6 linked regions of the Homo sapiens genome follow. The protein of the gene in region 6 interacts with the protein of the main gene of each other region in a biochemical or structural test. Each region holds a gene or a part of one and is shown on either strand. Other genes may lie near its edges. The genes, in order: TAX1BP1, TRIM17, TRIM22, ITGB1, MEFV and LGALS8.

Evidence for each region.
Region 1: the proteins of LGALS8 (region 6) and TAX1BP1 form a complex in vitro, tested with the Homo sapiens proteins (one study listed by BioGRID).
Region 2: the proteins of LGALS8 (region 6) and TRIM17 form a complex in vitro, tested with the Homo sapiens proteins (one study listed by BioGRID).
Region 3: the proteins of LGALS8 (region 6) and TRIM22 form a complex in vitro, tested with the Homo sapiens proteins (one study listed by BioGRID).
Region 4: the proteins of LGALS8 (region 6) and ITGB1 form a complex in vitro, tested with the Homo sapiens proteins (one study listed by BioGRID).
Region 5: the proteins of LGALS8 (region 6) and MEFV form a complex in vitro, tested with the Homo sapiens proteins (one study listed by BioGRID).

Annotation. Positions count from the first base shown.
Region 1 is NC_000007.14:27,746,626-27,750,511, forward strand, and holds part of TAX1BP1 (tax1-binding protein 1), read left to right. Parts: intron 1-1,892; 5' UTR 1,893-1,899; coding exon 1,900-2,061; intron 2,062-3,886.
Region 2 is NC_000001.11:228,410,263-228,413,861, reverse strand, and holds part of TRIM17 (E3 ubiquitin-protein ligase TRIM17), read left to right. Parts: coding exon 1-65; intron 66-604; exon of another isoform or gene 605-2,685; coding exon 2,686-2,916; exon of another isoform or gene 2,917-3,177; intron 3,178-3,599. UniProt on the Homo sapiens protein: E3 ubiquitin ligase that plays important roles in the regulation of neuronal apoptosis, selective autophagy or cell proliferation.
Region 3 is NC_000011.10:5,708,810-5,711,482, forward strand, and holds the end of TRIM22 (E3 ubiquitin-protein ligase TRIM22), read left to right. Parts: intron 1-243; coding exon 244-839; 3' UTR 840-2,054; downstream 2,055-2,673. UniProt on the Homo sapiens protein: Interferon-induced E3 ubiquitin ligase that plays important roles in innate and adaptive immunity.
Region 4 is NC_000010.11:32,923,551-32,927,436, forward strand, and holds part of ITGB1 (integrin beta-1 isoform 1A precursor), read right to left. Parts: intron 2,560-3,886; coding exon 2,321-2,559; intron 191-2,320; coding exon 35-190; intron 1-34.
Region 5 is NC_000016.10:3,253,555-3,258,030, reverse strand, and holds the start of MEFV (pyrin), read left to right. Parts: upstream 1-1,397; 5' UTR 1,398-1,443; coding exon 1,444-1,720; intron 1,721-3,240; coding exon 3,241-3,873; intron 3,874-4,476. UniProt on the Homo sapiens protein: Involved in the regulation of innate immunity and the inflammatory response in response to IFNG/IFN-gamma.
Region 6 is NC_000001.11:236,544,179-236,548,064, reverse strand, and holds part of LGALS8 (galectin-8), read right to left. Parts: intron 3,316-3,886; coding exon 3,150-3,315; intron 2,904-3,149; coding exon of another isoform or gene 2,844-2,903; exon of another isoform or gene 104-2,843; intron 54-103; coding exon 1-53.

The sequences.
Region 1 (3,886 bases), on a different chromosome or scaffold from region 6:
TATTCATAGTTAAGTCTTTCCATGAAATATGGTTGCTGGTAGCAAAGTCCCTTTATTAGTGCAGAGGTAAAGGGGGATTGCTACTGAATATACTCTTTATCTTGGAATGCTTGCAAACCTCAGGTAGGGAGAGGCTGACAACTAGCCTGATACTCTACAGTGGTTTCCAGGTTCATGATTGACAGTCTCTTTTTGGGATATCCATTATATTCAGTAAAGCAGGACTTTGGCCATAACAGAAGCAGAGGGGACACAAGAAGAAAGTTGATATTTTTTAAAGTGCTTATTATTACAAAACTTTAAAAATTTGCCTTAGTATTTCAAACAGGTCAGCAAAAGAAACAGTTGTAAAAGCACACTGTTTTAGATCTTAGCAATAAGCCTTCTTACTAATGGCTAAAATATGAGTAGAGCCTTACTGCTGTGCTTGCTCTGTAGAAACTTCATTGATTTGTGAAGTAAATTAGATTAATTTGGTTAGCAAAAACCTTGCCCCAGTTTTCCCCATTATTACAGAGATGCCTGTTTTAATGACTCAAGCAAGTGCAGTCAGGACAGTCATAGTTTCTTATGTGTATTGTAGAATTAGTGATTGTACGGAGCCTGTGACAAACTCTACAGATTGCTTTTTTGGGTAAATCCTCATTTGTTTCTGTTTTCTCAAAAGTAGAGCACAAAATAGGGAAAACATTTGGATCTTGCAGTTTTTATAATCTGCTTTCACCATTCATCTGCTATCCAGTGCTTGGTGTTTACTAAGCCAGTGAGCGTTCATGAATCTCTAAGAGATTTTCAACAGTGTGTATTTTATTAACACTACACTTTTATTTTTATTTTTAAATATAAGTTTATTTTAATCAGTAAACATGTGGAAAGGGTACGTGAATACTAGAAGTTGAGGTAGGATCATTGATTGGACCTATGATGAAATGATAGGTTTGTTATAGGTGGAGAAGAACAAATAGGCTGAGCCATTTCAAGTAGACCAGCTAAGATTTTACATGGTTTGAGAGATTTGAACAAGCTTGTAACAGAAGCCCAAGAAGACAGGCTGGGTCTGGGATCTGTGGAAATGAGTGAGAGGTAGAAGTTGTTGGATAGTGGTTCTCTTTTCTGGTTGCATACAGGATTGAGATTACTTGGGGCGATGTAGGGGCAGGGCTATGTATATTCGTATACACACCCACAGACACACATGCACACACTCCCAGGCCCCAATCCCAGAAAGTTGTTGTCATCTATTTTTTTTTTTTAAAGGCCCCTAATGATTCTAATGTGTAACCAGGGTTGAGAAATGCTGGTCCAGGGGATTAGAAGGGCAGGAATGTAGGCACAGAGATGTTAGCGTCAGGTTTAGTTATAGGACCCCAAAACCTAGGGAGAGGGGAAGAGATGAATGGGATGGGCTAGGTTAGGGAGGAGAATGATGAAGCCCAAGGGTTCTACATAGGAAGGAAATGTTAATTGACCCATAGCCAGTAAAATACTGACTTTTAACTGTTCTTGTTTCTGTTTCTTAGTGTTTGTTACTAGGAGCCAGCAGGTTTATATTGGCAGCGTGTGCACAAAAACACCTCTGGTTCATTTGCTTTTGATTTAAATAGAAGCAGAGGGCTAGGCTTTCCAGGAGAGTTAATTTTTGGTTTTGGTTTTTTAACTTTTAAATGCCCATATAACTTTCTGAGCCAAATGGGTTTTAGTTATTTTTCCAGTTTGTCTGTATTTTTATATTTAATCAATTTTTAAGAAGTTCCAGTATTTACAAAGTATATATTTTCTTAATTATGACATGCAAATATTCATGAAACTTATATTAAATATTATGTATTTTCTGAAGGCATAAGTTTATTCTTAGTTGGTATAATTTAACTTGTATGAATTACTTGTTTCAGATTCACAATGACATCCTTTCAAGAAGTCCCATTGCAGACTTCCAACTTTGCCCATGTCATCTTTCAAAATGTGGCCAAGAGTTACCTTCCTAATGCACACCTGGAATGTCATTACACCTTAACTCCATATATTCATCCACATCCAAAAGATTGGGTTGGTATATTCAAGGTAAGAAAGCTTTCTGAATATGTTCTCCATGTAAACACTTAAAATTTTCTTTTAAAACAGATTGATAAGTAGCTTTTACTTGCCTTAACTCTGCATTAAGACTCATTTTTGTAAACATCACCATGAAATATTTAACAGTGGGGAGTAGATAAAATGGATGTTGGGAACTCCATTTCACCAGATTTTCCTCTCCCTGATCAGAAAGTTTACCTTCACTTAAGGACTTGTGAAAATTTTTTCAGAATCTTCTTTTCCTATTTTCTCCATTCATTACCTGCAATAAAAAAAGATCTTTTTCTTTGGGTTCTTATATTATTTACCATTTTTTCCAGTCATTTGAAATTAATTTTATACAGCTTGACAGCCATGTTATTATCCCTTCTACTGTCCTGCATGGCTTAAATATTGCTCAGATTGTATTACACAGTTTTAAGAGTATTCTGTTTGTATTACACAGTTTTAAAGTATTCTGTTTAACATGACTGAATAGTAAACTCTTTGATGGCAGGAGTTCTAGTTCTTATATTTTACCAGTGATTTTGTATAATACTTTCTTGAAAATGAAGGTGATCATTACAGTGGTACACCTCACTGTGCAGGACTTTTTCTGGCAATTTTAACTCTTCAAAATGTAGTGGAAAACCAAAACATAAGAATGTCCTCTGAGCAGTCAAAATAATGTCACGAATGTCCAAACAGTAAAACACATTCACTTTTCTCCTGTGTTATTCTGTAGTCTTCCTCAGAATCAGTTTGTTTTATTTTAGTTAAGATTTTTATGGGCTTGAAATTTTGATTGTCTAATCTGTATAAAGTTAAACAACAAGGAAGAAAGAAATGAATAGCTGCTAGAAATTAGGCACATTGAAAGTGTCTAGAAGTAAAAGTCCAGCCTGACGGGAAGGCAGAAAAACATTTGGACAAAACAATTTTGGCATTTAATGACTTAGTTCCTTTCTTTGAATTCCTCATTTCTTGATGTTTCTGAATACAACACAATAGTTATTTACTGTTTACTTTTTGTGTCAGTTTTTTAGGCTTGTCAAATCCCAAAATGGAGAAACATTCATTGTAACAATTTTATGAAATTAGGAGTAGTTTTTAAATTTTATTTCTTATTTTTTGAGACAGGGTCTTATTCTATCACTCAGGCTGGAGTGCAGTGGTGGGATAGTGGCTTACTGCAACCTGACCTCCTGGGCTCAAGTGATCCTTTCCCCGCAGCCTTCCAAATAGCTGGGATTATAGACACAACACCACGCCTGGCTAATTTTTAAAATTTTTTGTAGAGACAGGGTCTCACTATGTTGCCTAGGCTGGTTTTAACTTCCTAGGCTTAAGTGATCCTCCTGTCCCAGCCTCCCAAAGTGCTGGGATTACAGGTGTGAGCCACCGCACCTGGCCTCAGTAGTAGTTTCGATTTTATGGGAGATACTGGTATCAAGTTAAAGATACTGATTGAGAACTGATGTTTTCTGTAGTAACAGAGCAGAGAGGAAGAAAACAGAAATGTGACTGAGGAAAAAGAAGGGCATTTCCAGCAGGAAAATGGTACAGGTTGAACATCCTAAATCTGAAAATCTAAAATCTGAAATGCTTTAAAATCCAAAACTTTTTGAATGCTGACATGATGTGCAAAGGAAATGCTTATTGGAACATTTTATGTTTTGGATTTGGGATGCCCAACCAGTAGGTATAATGCAAATACTCCAAAATCTGACAGATTTAGAAATCCAAAGCACTTCTGGTCTCAAGCATTTCGGATAAGGGATACTGAATCTGTATAAGCAGAGGCTTAGAGGTAGGAATGTTCATGAGAATGAGT
Region 2 (3,599 bases), 8.1 Mb from region 6:
GGGAGCAGATCACCAGGACAGGGAATCTGCAGGCCAGGGAGGAGCAGAGCTTAGCCGAGTGGCAGGTGGGTGCCCAGGGCTGTCCAGTCCCTTTCCTGCTGCTGCTCCATCTTCCTGCATTTCCACGTCTGTGTCTGCCCGTGGGGATATGCTGCCGCAGTGGCAGGAAAAGAAGAAAGTTGCCTCTACCCTTCTAGGTTCTGTGGCTGGCCTCAGAATGAAACTGACTTAAGACAGATGAACAGCAGAGAAAAAGATAAAAAGGCAATTTTAAATTACAGATGCACACATAGGGTGGAGAGAAGGGGCCTCAAAAATCAGACTCAAAGAGGCAGCCAGAGGGTAGGGGCTCAGTACCACAAAGGAGGCAGCCAGAGGGCGGGGGCTCAGTACCACAAAGGAGGCAGCCAGAAGGTGGGGGCTCAATACCACAAAGGAGGCAGCCAGAGGGCAGGGGCGTAGGTCAGCACCACAAAGGAATAGGGCTTGGGGGCCTCTGGGCTGGGGAGGCAGGTGATGTTGGTTAAGTATTTAAACAAGTGTCTCAGGTGAAGAGTTGTTTTTGGAACTCTCTTTCTGGTATAGATGCCTTGACCACTGGAAATTCCTTCATGAAAGGGCACTTTTTAATTTTTTTTTTTTTTTTTTTTGAGATGGAGTTTCACTCTTGTTGCCCAGGCTGGAATCCAATGGTGCGGTGTCAGTTCACTGCAACCTCTGCCTCCCGGGTTCAAGCAATTCTTCTGCCTCAGCCTCCCAAGCAGCTGGGACTATAGGTGCCCACCACCATGCCCGACTAACTTTTGTACTTTTAGTAGAGATGGGGTTTCACCATGTTGGTCAGGCTGGTCTTGAACTCCTGACCTCAGGTGATCTGCCTGCCTCGGCCTCCCAAAGTGCTGGGATTACAGGCATAAGTCATCGCGCCAGGCCAGGCACTTTATTTTTTTAGGCAGCTAATGGGGGAGGCAAACAGGTTTTCCTGCTTCTGCGGGTTCTCAATGGCCTTTAGTTAACCTTAATCCTAATGCCTGTCAAAACACAAAATTAAAACAGATTTAGAGATCTTTGTTGTTATTTTTTGTTTTTTTCTTGAGTCAGAGTCGCTCTGTGGCCCAGGCTGGAGCACAGTGATGCAATCATAGCTCACTGCAGCCTCAAATTCCTGGACTCAAGTGATCCTCCTGCTTCAACCTCCTGAGTAGCTGGGACTACAGGCACTTGCCACCAAGACCAGCTTTTTTTTTTTTTTTTTTTTTTTTTTTTGTAGAGACAAGGTCTTGCTATTGCCCAGGCTGGCCTTGAACTCCTGAGCTCAAACTATCTTCCCGCCTCAGCCTCCCAAAGCACTGGGATTACAGGCGTTAGCCACTGCACCCAGCTAAGAGAAAAGATTTATTTGCAAGGCCACTGAGTGAAGAGGAGGGAGAACAGCTCTTAAACCTGCCTCCCAAGTGATACAGCTTGGGAGTCTTTATGAACTACGGAGGCAGGGTGGTCCAGCAGGCCCATTCTGTGCAGGTGTCGTCGGGGTGCATGGCATTTCACAGGACACAGGTACCAGAAACGGCAGCCTTAGCATGATCTGAGGTTGGAAGTTTTGGCCCTCTCACATCAAAAGGCCACCTCGGGCACTGGGACAGGTCCACTTGAAGGGCAGATGGTCTCAACTGGTTTCAGCTGGACAGGAGCTGCCCCACATTCCTGAAGCGACCAGTCCCATGGTGACCTGTGAATATTATCTATAAAGAGCCAGTGAAGGGTGGGCGTCAGCATTCAGAGGCACAGCCTTCAGCTTCATGGAAAAAGGAAAAACAAAATAACAAAAAGCAATCAGGGCAGGCTGACCTGATCAGTGAACCCCTTGGTTTCATTAGCACCAGTGACTCCATTCTGGTTGGGTCTGGTCTTCTAGGACCCAGCGCAGGAGCCCAGTTCAAAACAGTGGCCCCTGAGGATCACCTGAGCCCAGGAGTCTGAGACAGCAGTGAACCATGATCATGCCACTGAACCCCAGCCTGGGCAACATAGCAAGACCCTGTCTCTACAAAAAAATTAAAAATTAGCTGGGCATGGTGGTGGTGACACATGTCTGTCGTCCCACTTCCTTGGAAGGCTGAGGTGGGAGGGTCACTTGAGGCCAGGAGGTCAAAGTTGCAGTGAGTTGTGGTTGTGCCATTGCACTCCAGCCTGGGCAACAGAGCAAGACCCTGTCCCTACACAAAATTTAAAAACTAGCTGGATGTGGTGGTGCATGCCTGTGGTCCCAGCTACTCAGATGACTTGAGCCCAGGAGGTCAAGGTTGCAATAAGTGCCACTGCATTCCAGCCTGGGCAACTGAGCGAGACCCTGTCTCAAACAAAACAAAACAAAAAACAATGGCCACCCATAAATTTTGTTTAACATGCCCAAGAGGCTTATCTGGGGGTGGACATTCTGAACCTCCTCAGAGCAAGGGTGCATGGGTGTTTGGATGTGTAGAAGTTGCAGTTCGGGGCTCGGAGGGTTACACTCAGTGTATCACAGGATGGCAGAGGTGGGGGCCTCTGTCACAGTTCCTGGTCCCCAACTAAAGCTCCAGTTGCTGGTGATCTTGTGGGTCACCAGGGCCCTGGGGAGAGGTGCCAGCATCCCTGGAGCTGAGCCACCTGCTGGCAACATGCTGGGCTTCTCCACTCCTGCAGGGCAAGGTGAAGGAGCGGAGAGAACGCATTGTGCTGGAGTTTGAGAAGATGAACCTCTACCTGGTGGAAGAAGAGCAGAGGCTCCTCCAGGCTCTGGAGACGGAAGAAGAGGAGACTGCCAGCAGGCTCCGGGAGAGCGTGGCCTGCCTGGACCGGCAGGGTCACTCTCTGGAGCTGCTGCTGCTGCAGCTGGAGGAGCGGAGCACACAGGGGCCCCTCCAGATGCTGCAGGTGAGCCAGTAGGCTTGGCAGGCAGGGTGGGATGTGAGCTCTGACAGGCATGGGCAGGGGGCGCTGGGCTTGGGGAAGAGGCAGCCAACGGGAAAGGGCTGTTAGCTCCCAGTCTGCTAGTCCTGGAGGCTGGGTGGCTGAGGCCAAGGTGCGGGCAGGCCTGGTTCCTCCTGAGCCTCTCTCCTAGGCCTGAAGATGCCGTCTCCTCCCCGCGTCCTCATGGCATCATCTCTCTATGCACGTCTCTGTCCTAATCATCTCCTTGTATAAAGACACCAGTCAGACTGGATTAGGGCCCACCCCAGTGACCTCAACTCCCTCCTTAAAGATGCTATCTCCAAACACAGTCACATTCTGAGGTCCTGAGGGTTCAGGCTTCAACCTGTGAATTAGTGGGGACACAAGTCAGCCCCTTACAGGTTCCAACCTGAGACAGTGTCCCCATTTCCTTCCAAGTCCAGAGAGGTGGCTTGGGACACCTGGCAGCCAGGTGTGGCTTTGGGACAGGGACTCCATGTCTCGGTGTGGAGGAGGTGCACTGTCCCAGGAGTGAGTTGTGTGGCAACGGCAGTGGGGAGGTGAAGCAGCCAGCCTGTCTGCCGGGACCAGCCTGTGTGCCATGGCCCTGGAGAGGGGGCTTGATTACGGCTGATAAGACGCCATCTCTACAAAAACTTAAAAAT
Region 3 (2,673 bases), on a different chromosome or scaffold from region 6:
GGGTTCAAGCGATTCTGCTGCCTCAGCCTCCCAAGTAGCTGGGATTACAGGCGTGTGCCACCACGCTTGGCTAATTTTTATAGTCTTACACCCTGTATTTCTTAAGGGTCCTACTAACCTCTGACTATCAACACAAGTTCCGTTTGATATCGACACAAGTTTCATTTTCAATATGTCTCTTCTCAATGCTGTAAGACACACCTATCCCATATCCTTCACTTGACTTGGTAATTTTTTCTACAGTGGACGTGATGCTGAATCCAGGCAGTGCCACTTCGAATGTTGCTATTTCTGTGGATCAGAGACAAGTGAAAACTGTACGCACCTGCACATTTAAGAATTCAAATCCATGTGATTTTTCTGCTTTTGGTGTCTTCGGCTGCCAATATTTCTCTTCGGGGAAATATTACTGGGAAGTAGATGTGTCTGGAAAGATTGCCTGGATCCTGGGCGTACACAGTAAAATAAGTAGTCTGAATAAAAGGAAGAGCTCTGGGTTTGCTTTTGATCCAAGTGTAAATTATTCAAAAGTTTACTCCAGATATAGACCTCAATATGGCTACTGGGTTATAGGATTACAGAATACATGTGAATATAATGCTTTTGAGGACTCCTCCTCTTCTGATCCCAAGGTTTTGACTCTCTTTATGGCTGTGCCTCCCTGTCGTATTGGGGTTTTCCTAGACTATGAGGCAGGCATTGTCTCATTTTTCAATGTCACAAACCACGGAGCACTCATCTACAAGTTCTCTGGATGTCGCTTTTCTCGACCTGCTTATCCGTATTTCAATCCTTGGAACTGCCTAGTCCCCATGACTGTGTGCCCACCGAGCTCCTGAGTGTTCTCATTCCTTTACCCACTTCTGCATAGTAGCCCTTGTGCTGAGACTCAGATTCTGCACCTGAGTTCATCTCTACTGAGACCATCTCTTCCTTTCTTTCCCCTTCTTTTACTTAGAATGTCTTTGTATTCATTTGCTAGGGCTTCCATAGCAAAGCATCATAGATTGCTGATTTAAACTGTAATTGTATTGCCGTACTGTGGGCTGGAAATCCCAAATCTAGATTCCAGCAGAGTTGGTTCTTTCTGAGGTCTGCAAGGAAGGGCTCTGTTCCATGCCTCTCTCCTTGGCTTGTAGAAGGCATCTTGTCCCTATGACTCTTCACATTGTCTTTATGTACATCTCTGTGCCCAAGTTTTCCCTTTTTATTAAGACACCAGTCATACTGGCTCAGGGCCCACCGCTAATGCCTTAATGAAATCATTTTAACATTATATTCTCTACAAAGACCTTATTTCCAAATAAGATAATATTTGGAGGTATTGGGAATAAAAACTCCAACATATAAATTTGAGGAAGGCACGATTTCACTCATAACAATCTTACCCTTTCTTGCAAGAGATGCTTGTACATTATTTTCCTAATACCTTGGTTTCACTAGTAGTAAACATTATTATTTTTTTTATATTTGCAAAGGAAACATATCTAATCCTTCCTATAGAAAGAACAGTATTGCTGTAATTCCTTTTCTTTTCTTCCTCATTTCCTCTGCCCCTTAAAAGATTGAAGAAAGAGAAACTTGTCAACTCATATCCACGTTATCTAGCAAAGTACATAAGAATCTATCACTAAGTAATGTATCCTTCAGAATGTGTTGGTTTACCAGTGACACCCCATATTCATCACAAAATTAAAGCAAGAAGTCCATAGTAATTTATTTGCTAATAGTGGATTTTTAATGCTCAGAGTTTCTGAGGTCAAATTTTATCTTTTCACTTACAAGCTCTATGATCTTAAATAATTTACTTAATGTATTTTGGTGTATTTTCCTCAAATTAATATTGGTGTTCAAGACTATATCTAATTCCTCTGATCACTTTGAGAAACAAACTTTTATTAAATGTAAGGCACTTTTCTATGAATTTTAAATATAAAAATAAATATTGTTCTGATTATTACTGAAAAGATGTCAGCCATTTCAATGTCTTGGGAAACAATTTTTTGTTTTTGTTCTGTTTTCTTTTTGCTTCAATAAAACAATAGCTGGCTCTACTGAAGTCTCATTCTTCAGTTTCCAAAATCTTGCTGCAGATAATATGAGTTTCCATATGTCCAGTAAAGAAGGTCATGTCTAGGCTCAGCTGTCCTTGATAAGAGACAGCCTTATGCTGTTCAGATCTGTTTCTCGTAATGAAACACTTGTGTGTACCATTGCATTTACCATCCTAGGTACTTTTCTTTTTTTTTTTTTTTAAGTCTTTTTTCAAACACAGGATGAGTAGTAGAACTACCTAGGATAGCAAAGACACAAAACATTCTTGAAGAAATATATTGTATTAGTCGGGGTTCTCCAGAGAAACAGAACAATAAGAGATATGTATTTATTATGAGGAATTGGCTTACTTGATTATGGAGGCTAAGACTTCCCATTATCTGCCATTTGGAAACCAGAGACCCAAAAGCTGGTGATATAAGTCAGTGTGTCTCTGAAGCCCTAAGAACCAGGGAGCTGATGGTATAAATGCCAGTACAAAGGCAGAAAAAGATGAGGTGACATGTCTCAGCTCAAGTACTGCGGCAGGAAAAGAAGCAAATATCTTCTTCCTCAACCCTTTCTCCTACTCAGATCCTTTATGGATTAGATGATGTCCAGCAACTTGGGGGAGGGCAA
Region 4 (3,886 bases), on a different chromosome or scaffold from region 6:
AACACATTCACTATGTAAGGAACCAGGCACTTACATAATAATGGCTCATTGTGTACATATTATTTTCCAGGTGACATTGTCCATCATTTGGTAAAACAATGCCACCAAGTTTCCCATCTCCAGCAAAGTGAAACCCGGCATCTGTGGAAAACACCAGCAGCCGTGTAACATTCCTCCAGCCAATCAGTGACTTGAAAAGAAAAGGATTTCAATTTTAAAACACTATTCACAGTAATTCAACAAAAATCCTTTAATTTTCATATAGGCCACCATTGTATTTTTAACCTAATTCTGTATTTTCTGTGTCTTCTCTTTATACAATGGTAATTATCTTGCTGAGAAACACACAAAGCCCACTGAATGAAGCTCTTCCATCCCATGTACAACGATATCTTGCCTGACCATCCGTATCTCTCAATCTCTCAGTTCTTTTTAAAAACTGTTTTTTTGTTTTGTTTGGTTTGGTTTAGTTCTGCTTATCATCATATCTCCAGCAGCTAGCAAGCCAGCACACTGCTTGGCAAGCAGTAAGCCCTTGATGAGCATTTGCTGAATAAATGAAAGTGTCTGAGCCTATCCTTACTTTACCCCACTGCTGCTGTCTTGTCCCCATCCACCCATCTCTGCTCTATGTTCTATGCCATGCACCTTCTTTATCAGCCCACCATATGAGGCTTCCTTTTTTTATAACAGAAATAAGTATCTTGTTTAAGGATAATTTCACCCATTCTAACTCCTCAATCAGTACTGTTTATGCACTCATTTACTTTATCCTTGCCCTTTCCAATAAAGAATCTAAAGTAACTGTAAAATCTTCTTGTCACTATGGTAATTTATAATTATAAAATCATAGGACTATAGGAATTTACCTGCTTTCGTTAATTTATTTAATACGTCTGTTTAGATCTTCATAAGACAGTAAAATACTTTAAGGTGGGAATCACATTTATTAATACTGGCAATCTTTCAAAAGTGGAATGTCTGATTCTTTTGCATCTAGAGGAGTGGATCAGCATGACCAACACAGAAAAACAGCCACAATCAAGGGTGTTATGGCTTGTTTAATACCACAGGTTAAGGCCTAGTTAGAGGCAGCCCAGAGAATGCCCTCCCCACAACGAGCTGCTAACAGGCTCACACATCAATGGCTAGTAAGAAAAGAGGTGTAAGGCTAGGTACTACCTGGAATGCTACTTGCTTCGGCTATAACAGCAGGGACTAACCTTAAATTGCAAACACTCTAGTGAAAAGTCGAAAGTAATAACAATATAGGAATTAGTATTTGCTGAATGCTCATTGGTACTTTATAGAGATTGATGCATTTTAACTTCACAAGAGCCCTATGAGGTAGATACTATCATGATCCCTTCTTAAAGAGAAGAAAACAGCCCTGGAGAGGCTGAGTAAATTGCCCAGCATCAGTGGTGATAGAAAAATTCTTAATTACTATCCATATTCCTTCACTTATTATTTTGGGCATCAATTAGCACCTTAGCAAAAATTGACTGAAAAATAACCACTAAGAGGCCTCTAAAATCAAAGAAGGTCATCTAGAGAATGGGGGCACTGGAGGGAACAAAAATGAGACAAGAGTAGGTACGCAGGACAAACTTGACATGACAATGTCTTCTAGTTTCAGCCTCAGCCACATCATTAAAGTGTCATCTCAAAATACATAGCTGCTACATGGATCATAAAATACAAATTATTGAACCAATAGGGATGGGCTTGCTACTGAAAATCTTACAATTAAAATTACAAATATTGTATCACTTCTCAAAATACATCTATTCATATAGGTTAAAAACTAGAGCTTAAAAAGTTCTCTCTTTTTGAATTACTAAGACACAGGAGAAAGATGTGTCTTTCAAAGACAGTGAGAAGAAAACTGACCAAAGGAAAATGATACAAGACACTCTCCCTTTGAGCAATTTCAAGGTTCCTGGTGATGCCTCAGATAATAACATCAATTCTATCTCTAGTACAAAGCCAGAAAGTTAGGACACATGGGCTTTTCTAAAATCCAGACCACCAGCTACAGTACAGAGAGGTTGCCCCGCTGTTTCAAATGGTTAGCATTCTGTCTTTTAAAAGCCCGCATGAATAAACTAACTGTGTGGTTTGCATAAAGATTAAATATGCTTTTATAAAGGCACTTTATGTATACAGGCAATTTAAGGGTTTACTTAAAATTACTTCTCTAAGATAATCAAATCTATGAAAATTAAGGTCAATTTTTCTATTATCATAGTAAAATCACACTTAAAATTCACACACATAATAGAAACAATATCCCCTGATAGGAAATGAATGCGCTTACTCCACAAACTGCAACTTGCATGATGGCATCGAAACCACCTTCTGGAGAATCCAAATTTCCAGATATGCGCTGTTTTCCAACAAGTTCATTAAATACTTCTCCTTTATTAGTAAGACTGAGCACATTTTTGTAGCTAAATGGGCTGGTGCAGTTCTGTTCACTTGTGCAAGGGTTCCTGAGCTTAGCTGGTGTTGTGCTAATGTAAGGCATCACAGTCTTTTCCACAAATGAGCCAAATCCTGCCAAGAAAAAAATGGTACATAAATGAATGAATGGATGGATAGATGGAAAGACAGAGATTTGCATTGTTTAAAAAATTCATCTATGTTACCAAATGTAGGTTACTATGGACTGAATGTCTGTGTTACCCCAAAATTCCTACATTGAAAACCTAATTCCCAACATGATGGTATTAGGAAGTGGTTCCTTTGGAAGGTGATTAGATCATGAGGGCAGAGCCCTCATGAATGGGATTAGTAACTGATACAGTTTGGGTATCTGTCCCCGCCCAAGTCTCATGTTAAAATGTGATCCCCAATGTTGAAGGTACGGCCTGGTGGAAGGTATTTCGATCATGGGGGCAGATCAATCCCTCATGGCTTGGTGCTATTCTGACCACAGTGAGTGAGTTCTCATGAGATCTGTTATTTAAAATTGTGTGGCATCTCTCCCCAACTCTTGCTCCTGCTCCCACCATGTGAGAAGCCTGCTCCCCACTTTGCCTTCTGCCACGATTGGAAGCTTCCTGAGGCCTCCCCAGAGGCCTTGCTGATGCTAGCGCCATGCTTCCTGTAGAGCTTGCAGGACCGTAAACCAATTAAACCTCTTTTCTTCATAAATTACCCAGTGTCAGATATGTCTTTATAGCAACGTAAGAATAGACTCCTACAGTGACCTCATCAAAGAAGCCCCAGAGAGCTGCTGTCTCCCTGCTGCTATGTGAGTACATCGCAAGAAGGTATCATCTATGAACCCAGAAGAGGGACCTCACCAGATGCTCAATCTGCCTGGATCTTGGACTTCTCACCTCCAGAGCTGTGAGAAATAAATTTCTGTTGTTCATAAGCCACCCAGTTTATAGTATTTTCTTAAAGCAGCACAAATGGACTAAGACCTAAGACAATCTTTTTATTTTGCCTCCCTACTTTAAAAATAACTCACATTCATTTTCTTGGCACACCAGCTCTCAATAATGACATGCTGAACAAATGAATAAACAAATATTCTAGAATTCTGGCCATTTTAAAAAACACTAATTTGATAGGAGCTCCCTAATGCCATGGTCCTTGAATTATGCTTACAGAATAAAAGAACATTTTAAGCAAGTGCTATTTTTAAATGTTTCCACTAAAATAGGGCTAATTTTTGAAAGGCAGCTCTTAGGCCTCATAACTGTCAAATCTTTCTAATATTCTGTTGCTAAACCTCTAGAGCAACAGGAGTGGAGAGAAGCAGGCAAAAAAGAGGTTAAGCTGGGGATGCATGAAATGGGAAAAATAAGGTTTGGAAAGCAGATCATCATCATATGAAAAATCCAGGTCTAAGATGAGATCAGGCTGTACGGGC
Region 5 (4,476 bases), on a different chromosome or scaffold from region 6:
CGCAACATAGTGAGACCCTGTCTCTATAAAAAATACAAAAATTGGCCAGATGTGGTGGAATGCACCTGTAGTCTCAGCTACTTGGGAGGCTGAGGTTGGAGGGTTGCTCAAGCCCAGGAGGCAGAAGTTGCAGTGAGCCAAGATCCCACTACTGCACTCCAGCCTGAGTGACTGAGCAAGACCCTATCTAAAAATAAAAAAATTAGGGTATGCAACGGTCAGAAGTAGGTAAGTGAGGAGTCAGTTCACCCTACATGTAATTTTTCATTTATTTATTTTTTTTGAGACAAAGTCCCGCTCTGTCGCCCAAGCTGGAGTACAATGGCGCAACCTCGGCTCACTGCAACATCTGCCTCCCATGTTCAAGTGATTCTCCTGCCTCAGCCTCCTGAGTAGCTGGGAGTACAGGTGCGTGCCACCATGCCTGGCTAATTTTTGTATTTTTAGTAGAGATGGGGTTTTACTGTGTTGGCCAGGCTGGTCTTGTACTCCCAACCTGAGGTGATCCACCCACCTCGGCCTCCCAAAGTGCTGGGATTACAGGCGTTAGCCACTGTGCCCTGCCCCCAACATGTAACTTCTGTTAGCTTCAAAGCCACCTCTGGGGCCCTGCACCACATATGAGCTGAAGGACACCCGTGCCTTTTCACCCGTGTAGCTCCAGCATCTTGGCACACTGTCTAGAATGTTCAATGAATGTGCACGGAAGAGCATTCTGGCTCCAGGGAGCGAGGACTGAGTCAGCTCTGGGAACAGATGAGTCAGGCTGGTGGTCCAGGCATTGCTTTTCAAGTCCTTCATGTGGCTGGAAGAACCAGTCAACTGGAACCGGATCAACAGGGGTGATGGCATGGCAAGAGTTATCTCCTGGCAGTGCCCTTCTGGCCTCACTTGCCTTCTTGGGCCAGGAAAGGCAAAGCTCACAGGACTGTATTCAGTGCCCACCCCTTCCCCCGTCCTGTGCCATTGGCTCTGGAAGGTCCCTGAAACCCCGAGTCTGGAGGAGAACAGTTGACCAGCAGGGCGGGCCCTCAGCATAGTCCTCTCTGTTCCCACTCACCCGCTCTGCCAGCCCCAGATCCTGGCAGGAAGGAAGATTGGAGGGGGTGTCTGGAATCCAATCCCAGACCTTCCCTTGCAGACTTGCCCATCTGTCTGTGGTCTAGTGTGGAGGCGAGGTCCAGGGTTTGGGAGGGGTGTGGGGGCACATGTCTGCCAAGGCATGGAGCCCTCCCAGCTGGAAAATCCTCTGAACCTGTAAGAAGAGAACACAGCCGGCATGGACACACCCTTACCCTTAGTCTCAGTTCCCACCAAGACACAGAGCATTTCCTGTGCCTTTTCCGCTATTTCACAACCTGCCTTTTCTTGCTCACCAAGGACAGAGGCTTCTTTTCCTACCAGAAGCCAGACAGCTGGCTCGAGCCTCTCCTGCTCAGCACCATGGCTAAGACCCCTAGTGACCATCTGCTGTCCACCCTGGAGGAGCTGGTGCCCTATGACTTCGAGAAGTTCAAGTTCAAGCTGCAGAACACCAGTGTGCAGAAGGAGCACTCCAGGATCCCCCGGAGCCAGATCCAGAGAGCCAGGCCGGTGAAGATGGCCACTCTGCTGGTCACCTACTATGGGGAAGAGTACGCCGTGCAGCTCACCCTGCAGGTCCTGCGGGCCATCAACCAGCGCCTGCTGGCCGAGGAGCTCCACAGGGCAGCCATTCAGGGTAAGCGGGCCCAGGCCTCCTCCTCATCCAGTGCTGAGTGCTGGCTGCTTTGTGGGAAAGGGGACCAGGAGCTCAGAGCAGCTCACTCTGACCTGGGGATTGGGAGTCTCAGGTCTACCAAAATCCAGATGACTTTAGTTCAGGAACGTCCCTTTCTTCACTCTGGCCTTTGGAACTGGGTTAGTAAACTTCCTTCAGGCTCCTAATGGGTTTTTTAAGAAGCAGGTCAGGGTCACGAAAGGCAGGAGCTGGAACACCTGTTCTTTGAGACTTCTTCACTACATTTATGATTAATACTCATGTCAGACAAACATCTCTAGGTTAGCAAAAAGGGATTGCTATGCAATCATATGAACGGGGTTGGTATAGAATCTTCTCAGTGCTGTTCACCATGTTGGCCAGGCTGGTCTCGAACTCCTGACCTCAAGTGATCCTCCCGCCTCAGCCTCCCAAAGTGCTGGGATTTCAGACATAGGCCACCGTGCCCGGCTTATTTTTATTTTTAAAGCGTATAATCTGGGTTTTGCTGACCTGTGTAAGATCTTATTTGAAACAGTTGTCCTGCTTAAAACGTTTGAAAAGTACTATTTGAGAAATATAGGCTAGGCATGGTGGCTCACACTTATAAATAATCTCAGCACTTTGGGAGGCTAAGGTGGGTGGATTGCTAGAGCTCAGGAGTTTGAGACCAGCTTGGGCAACATGGTGAAACCCTGTCTCTACCAAAAATACAAAAAAATGAGCCAGGCGTGGTAGCACACACCTGTATTTTCAGCTATTGAAAAAACAGAAAACAGGCTGAGGTGAGAGGATTGCTTGAGCCTGGGAGGCAGAGGTTGCAGTGAGCTGAGATCACATCAGGGCAACAGAGCAAGATCCTGTCTCAAAAAATAAAATAAGAGAGAGAGAAATACATAGCAACATCAAGCATGTTCTTACTGAATGGTAATTGACTGCCATTGTCTAGTCTAGGAAGTCCTGAACTTTTGTTTTTGAGATGGAGTCTTGCTCTGTCACTCAGGCTGGAGTGCAGTGGCCCGATCTCAGCTCACTGCAACCTCCACATCCCGGGCTCAAGCGATTCTCATGCCTCAGCCTCCCGAGTAGCTGGGACTACAGGTGCGCACCACCGCGTCTGGCTGAGTTTCTTATTTTTAGTAGGAACGGGGTTTTGCCATGTTGGCCAGGCTGGTCTCGAACTCCTGACCTCAAATGATCCTCCCACCTTGGCCTCTGGAGAAGCTGGGATTACAGGCATGCGCCACCACGCTCAGCTTATTTTTGTATTTTTAGTAGAGACGGGGTTTCACCCTGTTGGTCTTGAACTCCTGATCTCAGGTGATCCTCCCGCCTCGGCCTCCCAGAGTGCCGGGAATACAGGCATGAGCCACCGCGCCCGGCCCGTTGTTTTCCTCAATTTCTAAACTTTAATATCCAAGGGGATTCTCTCTCCTCTGCCCTGAATCTTGGGCCCTAAACGTGGGACAGCTTCATCATTTTGCATCTGGTTGTCCTTCCAGAATATTCCACACAAGAAAACGGCACAGATGATTCCGCAGCGTCCAGCTCCCTGGGGGAGAACAAGCCCAGGAGCCTGAAGACTCCAGACCACCCCGAGGGGAACGAGGGGAACGGCCCTCGGCCGTACGGGGGCGGAGCTGCCAGCCTGCGGTGCAGCCAGCCCGAGGCCGGGAGGGGGCTGTCGAGGAAGCCCCTGAGCAAACGCAGAGAGAAGGCCTCGGAGGGCCTGGACGCGCAGGGCAAGCCTCGGACCCGGAGCCCGGCCCTGCCGGGCGGGAGAAGCCCCGGCCCCTGCAGGGCGCTAGAGGGGGGCCAGGCCGAGGTCCGGCTGCGCAGAAACGCCAGCTCCGCGGGGAGGCTGCAGGGGCTGGCGGGGGGCGCCCCGGGGCAGAAGGAGTGCAGGCCCTTCGAAGTGTACCTGCCCTCGGGAAAGATGCGACCTAGAAGCCTTGAGGTCACCATTTCTACAGGGGAGAAGGCGCCCGCAAATCCAGAAATTCTCCTGACTCTAGAGGAAAAGACAGCTGCGAATCTGGACTCGGCAACAGAACCCCGGGCAAGGCCCACTCCGGATGGAGGGGCATCTGCGGACCTGAAGGAAGGCCCTGGAAATCCAGAACATTCGGTCACCGGTAAATTGTGTTCTTTCCTACTTTATATCGGCTGCAGAGAAAGAATGGCTGGCCGGGCACGATAGCTCATGCCTGTAATCCCAGCGCTTTGGGAGGCCAGGGCGGGAGGATTGCTGGAGGCCAAGACTTTGAGACCAGCCTGGTGAATGTAGTGAGACCCCCGCCATCTCTATAAACGAAATTAAAAAAATAAAAACCCAAAGGTTGGGCAGGGCGTGGTAGCTCTCGCCTGTAATCCCAGAGCTTTGAGAGGCCTGCACGGGAGGATCTCTTGACCCCAGGAGTTCCATACTAGCCTAGGCAACACAGTGAGACCCCATCTCTACAAAATACAATAGTGGCACGCGCCTGTAGTCCCAGCTGCTCGGGTTCACTTGAGCAGACGGAGTTCCAGGCTACAGTGAGCTGAGATCATGCCACTGCACACCAGCCTGAGCAACGTAGCCAGACTCCACTTCTACAAAACTAAAAAAAAAATTAGCTGGGTATGGTGGCACACGCCTGTAATTCTAGCCACTCAGGAAGCTGAGGCAGGAGGATTGCTTGAGCCAGGGAGTTCCAGGCTGCAGTGAGCTGAGGATGTGCCACTGCACTCCGGCCTGG
Region 6 (3,886 bases):
TGTACGCCATTTACTGCAACCTTGAATTCTCTAACATCACAATAAATTATCATCTGAAAGGAAAGGATACATGCCATTAGTGGTTCCCCTTAGTTTAAAATTTTGTGTTTGTTACATGCTAACGGTGTCAGAGTAAACCATTTGATTATACATAGAAAAGTTCCAGCCTGCTGCTGCTGACTTCCTTCTGACTTCCAAGACCCTAATCTAACTAAAGTGTCCCTGGTGGTGGCACTGTCTGCCTCATCCCACCCAGGGAAGTGACTCGGACATGTTTGGAGCCTCACACCATCCCCAGGGCCTGCGGCCCTCCTTTCCTCAACACAGCCCCTCTCCCTCGGCCGCATCCTGCCCCTTGCTCCTGGAAAGCCAGAGTGCTGCCCCTCCTCGCCGATGCTGGGGACTCTCCTAAAGCAGGAAAACTCACTCCTAATATGGTTGCTTTAGTTCACCGAGATGCTGTTTCCAGCTGTAGCCTGGAACCAAGGGACTTGGATCCTGACTGACTTTTCTGCCTCAAACTCTAGGACCATGAACAAACCAGACAATTAATATGAAATTTCAGCAGCTTAAGGCACTTGCTAGGGTTTTTACAGCTGCTTGGTGATCCTGATCCTGATAAGCTCAGCACATCTTGGCCTCAGTGTGTTTGTCCAAAGCCGTCAAAGCTGGGTATCCCGTAAGTTGGAAGTGGTGCACATACTACAAATTCAGATCCATCGGCAGTGTTCGCCCTTCACAGTCATCTATGCCCAAAACTCAAACAATGAAAAACCAAAAAACCTACTAGCCTTTTACATCACCTTTACACCTACACTTCATACTTCTGGTGCCACGCTGCCAGTGCCAGGCTGGGTTTCCACCCACTCTGAGAAGGCCACTGGGAGGCCCTGCACTGAGCTCTCCCTGTGCTCCTCGCCCCCATGAAGGCTTCAGAAGAAAGAGGGGCAGCTCAGCCTTGCTGCTAACCCGGCCCCACCCCGAGAGGCCAGAATGAAGCACAAAACCTGAATCTGCAAAGCAGCAAGTTGAGGGTTTCCATTCTTTTGATAGGAGCAGTGGAAAGGACTGTCAAGGAAAATCAGGAAGGGGAGGAAATTTCAGCCCAAGTCCTGCACTCTGATAACAGCTGGCCAAGATGAAGCTTCTGTGGCTACAGAGGATTGGGGAAATAGGTGTAACCTGAGATTCTATCCCCACAAGAATGGTGGGAATCCCAGTTCCAACCAGGTAGAAGGGACCCCAGATATATTTAACAAAATCTCAAGAAAACACAAAACACACAGCCTGATGCTATAGCTCAGAAGGAAAACCAAGTTGGCAGCAGAGGGAGTCAATTAGTTACCTGTACTGTATCAGAGCAAGTGCAAAGCCAGTGAATTACAAGCAAGTGGCAAAGAAATGACATGCTTCCGGGTGAGCAGACTACTGCAAATGAAAAGAAGGCACATCCTTTGCCTAGAAGAAAACAGAACAACAGAATCCCTCACAACCATCTGATGCTGCCGAACAGCTGGAACACGGATTTCATCCAGAGGAAGAGCCCACAGATGAAATTACAACACTGAATGAGATTGTTTTTAAAAAACTGTAGATACAACTAAAGTGTATTTGAAAGAGCAAGAAGATTTAAAATGAAAGTAATGGCATAATGGAAAGACCTGAGATAATCTCAATGCAAGCATATTTAAAAGGCAAGAGATGGAAGCCCCCGGAAAGGACCTATCAGTATAGAAAATCGTCAGCAGTGATCAACACAAGGATAATTACTGCTCCTGAATTAGAAAATTAAATGGAAAAGACGATTGTTCAAAAGCATATAACATTCATCTATTCATTCCTTCAGCCAGCCATCCCTTTCACTGTCTCTGCAAAAAAATGCCTGGAATGTGGTTCACCTAATCCTAATGGTATGGTTTGAATTATGAAGTTGGAGGTATTTTCATCTTAGTATTTTTCAGCATTATTTGAATGTATCATTATTATCCTTTTTTATATTAATATAGCAGATCCAAACTTGGGGCCCAGATAGGTCAAAAACAAGTTACATCATTGGTTTCCTGTCACCCACCACAAGGCTCAACTTCCTTCTAGAGCACTCACCTCTGTTTCCCTCCAGTGAACCCCAAGTCACCCTTTGCGCCTTGACTCTTGCCAAGCTAACAACCCTGTGCTGCCCTTCCCACCTCTAAGGACTTGTTCAAATCATGCCCTAAATCTAGAAAAGCCAACCTTCAGCCTTCCACATCCTTCCCAGCTTTCTGAATTCCAAACCAATATCCACAACTTCAGGGAACCTTCCATGATTAGCCCACATCTGTCTACACTCCACATACCAGGGCACTGCATTAGACTGGAACTTAGGGATAAATATGAATGTCACATTGCTATCTATTCCGCCTGATATTCATGCTTTTAGTAACGAGTTTTGATGAGTCCTCAAGAACCCACATGGTCCAGACAATGTGTCAGTTTAAAATGCTGTAGAATGATAACCTAAACCAATGACCCTAAGTGACTGTGTGAGGCAGTGGCACCTGAGCTGGTGATTGAGGCTGGCCAAACACCCGGCATCCGCATCACAAGGAGACTATTCTCTGCTCAGCATCCCAGAAACATATTTCGGGAAAGGTATGTGTTACAATATTCACCTATCTGGGGACTCAGGACTGCATGCCTTTTAGTTCCAAGGGACTGATGTATTTTTCCTTGAATACATACAAACAAGACTAACTCCTTAGGAGAAAGGACTGCCACCTGAAACCGTCTACCCTGATGGGAGATGATGGCCAGTGCAAGCAAGCAGTTTTAGGGTCTCCACGTCCTCAAGTCTGCTTATATGATTAAATGTGTGACTCCAGTCCTGAGACAAGCTTCCTGGTTAAATTCCTATCAATATGGGGCTACACAGGAATTTTAATATGATGACAAATGTCAATTCCAATGTGCATAATTTGACACTCTACTGGCTTTGCCATTTATACTGATTGCCCACGTTATAAAAAGGGGCAAATTACAATCTCCAAGTAAACAAAAAACATACACAACTTCCACATACTGAGTTAGGACTTGATTTAAATGGACCACTTATCCCACCCCTGCTCCCAGGATTCTTATTGCTGTCCCATTTTCAAAAACTGTAACCTCACCTCAAAGTACATCCCAGGACTAAATGGGAAAGAGGTAATATTTCTCTCTTCTTCTCCCCAGGACTCCTGAAGAAAAGAATTTCTTACAAATGCTTTAATATTCAGGCGTGGGTTCAAGTGTAGAGCAATATCCTTTGATTTTCCTGCTAGTAGGTCAACATTAAAGCTTTTGAGAAAGAAAGAAAAAAAAAAACCTTAATTAACCAAGTAGGACAGAGTAGTGGCAATTTCAGCAATGTTAGTGACCAGACTTGAACTATGATTCTAACTCTATGAAACACACGTATCCACATGGACATGGGAATGCAGGTGAAGTTGAAATTTTAAACCCAGTCAGCATTCCACTAATTCGTTACTTGCAAAATAAAAATACGAAAAAAAAAACCCTTTAAAATCAGCGTTGAGGCTGAGATGTGGTTGGACAGAAATGGAAGGTTTAACGCTAAACTGAATGACTACTTCAGGCTGCAGGAGCCTGGGATCCTCTCAAGCAGGTATTCTCTTTTCATCATCTACCCGTGTTCCTTCCTTCTTGAAAGTATGCCACTTTCTAGGAAATAGCTCTAATTTCAAGCTTTCAGAAGGCTGGACGTCTGTGGAAAAAGTTGTTAAAGCAGAAATTTTCTAAATCACATGACAAGAGGGGCCCTAAAAAATGTTGCCTGGGCTGGGCGTGGTGACTCACACCTGTAATCCCAGCACTGGGAGGGCGAAGTGGGCGGATCACTTGAGGTCAG